Linked DNA regions of Homo sapiens: region 2 is linked to region 1. A link means that fine-mapping ties the variant in region 1 to the expression of a gene that starts in the linked region. Tissue or cell type: tibial nerve. Region 1 holds a variant in brackets; the other region holds the start of a gene. All regions are shown on one strand. Distances are between the middles of the regions.

Region 1 (4,249 bases):
CAAGAACAAAAAACCAAACACTGCATGTTCTCACTCATAGGTGGGAAATGAACAATGAGAACACTTGGACACAGGAAGGGGAACATCACACACCGGGACCTGTAGTGGGGTAAGGGAAGCGGGGAGAGAAAGCATTAGGAGATATACCTAACGTAAACGATGAGTTAATGGGCGCAGCACACCAACATGGCACATTTATACACATGTAACAAACCTGCACGTTGTGCACACGCACCCTAGAACTTAAAAAAAAAAAATGCCTTTCGTAACAGCATAAAAATATACTCTGAAGACTACAAAATATTATTGAAAGAAATTAAAGATATAAAAGGAAAACATCCCCTATTCATGGACCAGAAGCCTTAATTAACATTAAGATGAAAATACTCCCCAAACTGATCCAGAGATTTAACACAGTCTTTGTAGACATTTGCAAATTCTAAAATTCATAAAAAATTGCAAAAGACCCAGAAAAGCCTAAACAATAAAGTAGGACTCACATGTGTCCTGATTTCAAAAACATACTAAGGAAGCCATGATGATCAACACAGTGTAATACTGGTGCAAGAAAAGACCTATAGATCCAAATAATGGAATTGAGAGTTCAGAAATAAACCCATACACATCAAGTGATTTTCAACAAGGTTGCCAAAAAACCATTACATGGGGGAAAGAATAGTCTTTTCAACAGATGGCAGTGGAACAACTGGATATGCAAAAAGATGAAACTGGATCTTCATACCATATTTTAAAATTATACAATTCTTAGAGGAAAACTCAGGGTCAAATCTTTATGACCTTAGATTTGGCAAAGGATTCTTAGATATGCCACGAAAAGCCCAGGCAACAAAAGAAAAAAAGAGATACACTGGACTTCGCCGAAATAAACTTTTGCACTTTAAAAGACACCATCACAAAAAGAGAAAAGACAACCCAGAGAATGGGGGAAAAAATCTGGAAATCATGTATCTGATACGGGATTTGTATCAATATTACATAAAGAATTCTTACAACTCAATCATAAAAAGGCAAAATAACCCAATTAAAAATGGACAAATGGACAAAGGGGCCAGGCGTGGTGGTTCAAGCCTGTAATCCCAACACTCTGGGAGGCCAAGGTGGATGATGGTGGTGTGCACCTGTAATCCCAGTTACTTGGGAGGCTGAGGCAGGAGAATCGCTTGAACCCTGGAGGCAGAGGCTGCAGTGAGCCAAAATTGCGCCACTGCACTCCAGCCTGGGTGACAGAACGAGACTCCGTCTCGGGGGGAAAAAAAAAAAAAAAAAAGGGACAAAGGATCTAAACAGACATTTCTCCAAAGATATACAAATGGCCAATACACATGTGAAAAGATTCTTGACTTCGTAAGTCATCAGGAAAATATAGATAACAAAGCAAGTGTTAGTAATGAAGTGGAGAAGTGAGAACCCTCATGCACTGCTGGGGGGAATGTAAAATGGTGCAGCTGCTTTGGAAAACAGTCTGTAGTTCTTCAAATGATTACAGTTACTAAGTGACGCAACAATTCCACTCTTAGGTATATACCTAAAAGAAGTGAAAACATACATTCACACAGAATTATGGTGGCCATTATCTATGGTTCCACGTGGACAGCAACAGGTCTTGTCTAGAATACACACTCATTTGGATGTGTATACCTGTTAGCTGCAGGAATCACCTTTAACATTATTAGAGGCCGCAGCAGAAACAATTTCAATTTAGACCTCCTACTTATATATCATTTGATAAAGAAACTCACTTTACTGCAGGTGCAGTTCAACAATGTGCTAACAACCATTATCTACCACAGACTAACTTATATACCTTACCAAACACAAAGTATTGGAGCAAATGTTTGAAACACTTTTCAAAGTGGTAATGAGAGACAGAGTTGCATGATGGAATGTGTGTCAAAACATAAAAGGCATGAAATTAAAGGGGGACTCAACACTAAACAGATTATAGAGATACTTCAGGAAAAATAAGGGAGGGGTGGAGTAATAACACAGGAACTGATAACAATTTCCTCCATATTTCTGAACATTTTTCTTTTTCTCTGACTGATCATGTAGAACATGGATATGGATTACATTTACAAGCTCAGGAAGACGGATCAGTTGCAAACATGACATGAAGATAATACCTCTAAATATAACTGTCTGAGGAATGATGGAATGGACTGTTTTTATTTTCACCTATCTAAGCTTGGAATTAATGTTTTTTTTTCATCTTTCCTCACATGTGGACAAGACAGTCCTATAAACTTGTAGTTATCCACCTCAACATCATGTGACTGGGAATGGACAAAGGGGAAAAGCACTGGCCAGTCTCACATTGCTGTCAGCTCCACAGGTAAGTCCTCTTGCCGAAT[G/C]TGATGGTCTCCTAACTCAGGGATCAAGGTCTGGGTAAAAAACTAACAACAGGAGAAAGGAGGAAAAGTCTTTACTCTCAGAAAGGGAGCCAATAAATGAATAATGCAAAAAAGAAAGGTAACATTATTTTGGTATCTCGTAAGAGCCTGGGAGCAAGAGAATGCTCTTAGCTATATTTACAGATGCCCATAAGACCTGATGAAATTGTCTCCTTTATTTGAAGCTGTCTAAGATGGGTTGCAGGAGATTTAATAATTTAATCTGTAGAATTTTGTCTGAATCTTGATGATGCTAATAACAACATCTTGAGGATAAACACAGAATAATTCTAATGCTTGCCTTTTGGCTCCCATTGGTTTTATCTATTGTAGAGAACCACTTTTGGGAGGCAAAATTAGGACACGTTGTCTCTGAAATGCACACAAACGATTTTGTTGAACAACGAAGTCACAGACCACCACGTAACTATTAAACGCAGTTATGATTTGTTAAGAAAGGTGTCCAGAAACACAGACATAAAATAACTGCTGCATTTCCAACTACTCATAGTAACATGTGCTCTAATGCCTATGTACCTTGTTTCTGTGGGCGGAAGGCACTAAGGTTAAAAAAATTCTTAGTACTGAAACCAAGTAAAGGATAACTAGGTGGGCTTACACACTTATAGCCCTGATCTTTTGCTGAGAATAATTACTACTCATAAGACACTGTCTCGGGGAACTGAAAACTTTTGTCTTCCCTCGCCCGCCATCTCTCAAAAGGTTCCTGAAAGATTTTGGATCCAAAAGGTATATTCAAACTATATTCAAGCAATAAAAACTCAATGGCAACAACTTATTTAATGGTTAAACCAATTTGGGCAGAAACACTGGCACAGTTCTATGAGTCCTATGGTAAGCCCGATTTGCCTTTAATGAAAAGAGACATACTGAGCAAGACGACTTAATGACCTACTGGTTGTTGACAAGAAATGTTATTTCAGGAGGAAGGGAAATGGTGGCAAGCAGCCTGGAAAAATGATAAAACAAACTCAACAGTTACATAAAGATGGGAAGACACATGTACCCAGACTCAAGAAGGATTAAGTACGCTCCTCAATTAAAAGCCAAGGTAGTGCAAGGAAAATGGCCTGGTATCTTGGCAGAGCGAGCAAAAAGAATGAATTTATGGGAAACTTATGGTGCCTCAGTCAATTACAACATTTTGGTATATAAGCAAGAGCTGATTTTGTTGAGAAAGATGAGAAAACATTTAGTAAGCAATCTAAATCATAATGTAATTGCTACTTGGTGCAAATGGTATCATTGGTGAGGTTCATATGAACACATCCTATGACCAAATGAATGAGCAAATGTATAAGGAAACTGAATTAAAATCCCTACAAGATGGTCTTCTGGTAAAAGACTAGATTATCAGAGAAATAACTAGATTAATAATTGTTATAAAATTTCACAAAACTCAACTTTCTGTGGTAGAAAGAGGTAAAACTGTCAAGCTTGTACATGATTAAGAACAAGTTTTCACTGGATTATCTGGTAAACTGCAATTTTTTTAAAAGTTATAATCTACTTCAGTAACTACAAATGATTAGTATTTTGGTGTTTATCTTCTTGTTTTTCTGTTATATAATGTAAAAGATGCCAAAAGAAGAATGATGACAAGTGATTTAAAAAGCTTAACCAAGGGTAAGAGCGTGTGGAATGCGTAAGTGTCTATTGCAACCATGTGTTTATCCCCGGGAACACCTGGAACCAGTCATGTTGCTAACTGTTGGCCAAACCTGAATGAAATGTTCTAACTAGTGATGAATATAGTCCTGTGCTAGAGTCAAGACTAGGGGGCAACTTGTACTAGCTTGTCAGCACCGTTTATAGAG
Region 2 (4,249 bases), 170 kb after region 1:
GTTTAGTAACTCAATGTAATTGGAGACTTATGTATCATTTGCTATGTGGCACACACTATTTTAAGGTCTTTGTATATATTAACTCATTCAATCCTCACAATAATCCTACAAAGTAGGTAACCTCATCATACGGTAGAGGGAAATGAAGCAGAGAGGTTAAACAGCTTGCCCAGGGTCACCTAGCTATCAAGTGGTGGAGATGGGCTTCAAACCAAGGCAATCTGGCCCCAGTTCCATGTCTTTAATCAACACATTATAATGCCTTTCTAGGAAAGATCAAATCAGTGTTTTGAAAACTCACAGTATTTTCTAACCTTTCAGTTAAATATGCAGACTGTTCAATGCCATCCTCCAGACCTACTGATTCAGAATCTGAGATCTGAAGTGCAGGAATCAGCATTGTTGAACAAATCCTTCAAGGTAGTGTATACACAATAAATTCTGAAACTCACTGATTTAAGAAAGAGCAAAAATCCAATGAAAATAATTCAGGTAGAAAAAAATAAAGAGATTAGGATATAGCGATCAATTTTTAAAAATTACCATTTGTTGACAGCACATATGAAATGAGCAGAAAGGCTTAGAGAAGTATAGCCAATGTCTCTGTTACAAAGACACTATATGAAAAATGCTCATATTTTAACTATCCTAAACACCGAGTATTTAAGTCTATTCTTCCTGGCTAACACTTAAAAGTTCAATAGCAGGAAGAATGGGGGTGCTGGAATAGCCAGCACTGGATGAAGGAATGTTTTTATTCTGATTATTATGAAGTCCTACTTTTAAAAATATATTTATACATTTAAATGGTACAATATCCTGGTGTTAAAACCTTAAAAGGAACTTAAAATATCTTTTCGTATTAAGCTACACAAAACTGACGATTTTTAATAAAGATGTAAAACTTGTACACATTTAAAGTTCCCATTTATAGTTTACATTTATGGCACACTTTTAAACCATTCCAGAAGGCATGACTTTACTACTGGGTTAGACAGAGTTCCATATTTCAGATAGTTCATCATTAAAAATTAAAAAAAAAAAAGCCCAAAACAATAAAACCCAAAGAAACAGATGCTCAAAGCATTAGTGGATTACTTCCAAAAAGACTCCATAATAACCCAGTTGGCCAATGAATGAGGGAGGCGAAAAGGCAGGGCGGTGGAACTAAACCTTATCCCTATTGTTTGCAAACTAAGACCCTAGTTAATCACCACCGCTGTTACCACAGCCGGTTTAAATAGGAGTCTCGGATTTTTGCGGTACATGAAAAATGTCAACCGTGAAAGAAAAATATCCGGGTTTTAAATACAAAGGACACTCGAATTTCAGTTTAAATCCCACTCAGGCATTTCAAAGACTGTCACTTCCCTGCAGTCCAGAGTTAATCAAGGTTGCCCGGGTATCTCTCTCAGGAGGAACGCGGAGCCACGTAGAGCATCTTTTCATTCTAAACCCGCCCCAACCTTCCATCTTTCATTAAAAGAGATTTGTTTAAACGTGGCAACGCCTTCACAGTGAGATTTAACTACTGTTAAAATTTCAGCATTCGAGCCGAATTGGTGGAAATAATAAACTACGGGTTTAAAAAAAGCCACGGAGGATGCGTATAAACAAGGTTTACTCGCGGGGGACCGGCAGGGCCTCCGAATCCTCAACACTGAGAGCTGGCTGGCGTGCGCAACCGTCGAGAGCGCTGGTCCAGCAAACGCCCCCAGTGCCCCGAATTCCCTTAGTCTCCAGGCCGGGCCCCAGCACCAGACGTCCCCAAAAGCACTGCGAGGCCCCGGCTGCGACGTCCGGCCTCCTGACACCCTCTCCCACCCCACGGTCCTGCTTCTCTCTCTGGAACGTTCTGCGTCTTCCCGTTCCCCATTTACTCACCAAGGAGAGCTGGGCAGAAGTTCCAGAGCCTCAGTGCCACTTTTCCCGGCCCGCTGTACGTCGGGGCACGCCGACCGCGAGCAGCCACATTCAACGGCCCACAGGATTCAAATTCGTCCACTTCCGCTCGCAAACCCGGAAAGAGCGGTCGGCCCCGCCCTCGAGGGGTGGGACCCGCGGAGGCGCTGGCTGTGGGGAAGGGCCCGTGTGCTCCCGCCCTTCTGGCGCTCCTGCGCTGCTGCTCGGTGCTAACCTGGCTGTGTCGCCTTCGCTTGTTTGTTTTGTCGGGTCTCTCTCCCTATTTAGGAGCTCAGAAAAACTCCGGGCGCGGGGTCATTGTTTCCGCCTATTTGCTCTTGAGGGGATCCTCTTTTTTCCAAAATGGACAGAGATGTGCTGAAGTTTCGTCACCTTCGAGGAATGGGGCGAATGAAAGCACGAACGGAGGCAGGAGGGTTTTATCTTTCCCTTCATCCTCGAGGAAACAGCAGCAGCAGCAAGAAGGAAAAAAACAAACCCTCCAAGTACTTAGTGCAGCCTTTCCTGGGCCTCTCAGTCCTATCCCGGCACAGTCAGGGCTTTTAATTTATTTCTGTCCTGGGTTTAGGGAAAACAAAAAGCCAAGTTCACCCGTATTCAGCCAAAAGTTGAAAATAAGTGGTCGGACCAATTCCTGGTCTCAAATAAACTATTTGATGGTGTTAGAAGGCAATAAATTTTATTTCCCCCCTCAGATAAGGGCTCACTTTACGAGATTATTAAGTATTGTCCCGTGAGATTATTGAAACAACAGTATCTTTTCCTTTATCGAGGACCACAGTATGTCTTTGATCCAAAACGTCTTAAGCTTCTGAAGAGACATCTGGGAGCTTCCAGAAACTAAAGGAAGGACTGGAAATGCTAGGGGGTGAGGGGCGCTAAATAACTCTGACCTTTATGGCTGTGATTGATGTTGCCACCAGATCATCCTCACATCTAATAACATTGAATTACCTAAACGGATCAGTACAAACCAAACCATGACAGCATACCTTTAGCCTTTGTCAAAAATACAGTTTGAGGGCCGGGCGCGGTGGCTCACGCCTGTAATCCCAGCACTTTGGTAGGCCGAGGCGGGTGGATCACGAGGTCAGGAGATCGAGACCATCCTGGCTAACATGGTGAAACCCCGTCTCTACTAAATGTACAAAAAATTAGCTGGGCGTGATGGCAGGCGCCTGTAGTCCCAGCTACTCGGGAGGCTGAGGCAGGAGAATGGTGTGAACCCGGGAGACGGAGCTTGCAGTGAGCAGAAATTGCGCCACTGCACTCCAGCCTGGGCGACAGAGCGAGGCTCTGTCTCAAAAAAAAAAAAAAAAAAAAAAAAAAAATACAGTTTGAAAGGTTTACTAGATTTCTGAGAACCTATGCTACAGGTAATCTGACACAGGGGGTGTGTAAAGCTATTAACTGATGTACTGTTTTTAACAGTGGAAGATAGAAAATAATCTGTGTCTACAAATAAGGAAGGGGTTAAATACATGTAAGTTATGATACTTTAGCATCTGATATACTGACGCTGCGGGCACTAAAAGTAATGAAGTAGATCAGCGGGTACTGAAATGAAATACTGAAAAAGTTTAAGAAGGACTGTAGTATCCTTGTTTGAAAGTATGTGTGTGTATATGGTATACAAAGTTTTGGGATGGATACCTAAGCTGTAAACATCTCTGGGAGCGGGCTGGTAAATAAGAGTAGGAAGAGATGGAGAACTTTTACCTTTCACTTTATCACCAGTTGAATTTTTAAGATAATAAACTTTTTTTTTAATTTTGCAATTTTGTTCTTTAAGGAAGATTGCTAGAAATTGAATACATTCTAGATACAAAATCAGGTTTAATGAGCGTATAAATTTCTAATGTTTGGATAGTCTATGTCCATTCATTCATTCAACAGTTCTTTCTACAATTACATATAATGATTTGACCACACATTTTGTCATTCATGATATAGTGTATTATTTTATGTTTACATATCTAATATGACCCCGTTAAATATATTGCTCCTTGAAGTTTCTTGAAGGCAGAAACTATGTTATATATTTTCCTATGTCTTTCATAATTCTTGGCACCTTCCCACCATTCTTATCCTTCACAGGAATTAAATTCTCAAGTTGACCTGTATACAAAAGTTAAAAATGCCCTGGAAAAGCCACCCAAAAGATTATATATATATATATGATTTTCTTTATACAACTCTATGAGCAAGGTTTTGTGTTTTTTTTTTTTTTTTTCAGTTTGTCCCCTGAGTTCTCCTTGGTCAGTTCTTCTCTACAACCCTTAATTAATTCTTCAATTTCTTCCGCTAAAATGTTGTCAAAGTCATT

Which allele goes with the higher level. Positions count from the first base shown, and alleles are read on the strand shown. Sizes are in standard deviations (SD) of each study's normalised expression.
As copies of G replace C in region 1, the expression in tibial nerve of the gene that starts at base 1,999 in region 2 goes up (small effect, 0.19 SD a copy in GTEx).

Evidence for each region. PIP is the estimated chance that this variant, and not a neighbour inherited with it, causes the effect.
Region 2: G2E3 starts here. The variant in region 1 is the best candidate, but not a certain one, in a credible set for the expression of G2E3 in tibial nerve (GTEx, PIP 0.75).

Annotation. Positions count from the first base shown.
Region 1 is chr14:30,725,878-30,730,126 of GRCh38, reverse strand. All of the region lies in intron 23 of SCFD1 (sec1 family domain containing 1), which reads right to left. Among named protein-coding and RNA genes, the nearest start is that of SCFD1, 110 kb to the right of the region's middle. The variant G/C (reference allele first, on the strand shown) is at 2,373.
Region 2 is chr14:30,556,908-30,561,156 of GRCh38, reverse strand. It overlaps G2E3 (G2/M-phase specific E3 ubiquitin protein ligase), which reads right to left and starts at 1,999. Exons shown (of 15, transcript NM_017769.5): 1 at 1,885-1,999. G2E3-AS1 (G2E3 antisense RNA 1) reads left to right here. Exons shown (of 4, transcript NR_151720.1): 3 at 322-420. RefSeq lists an enhancer at 2,144-2,333.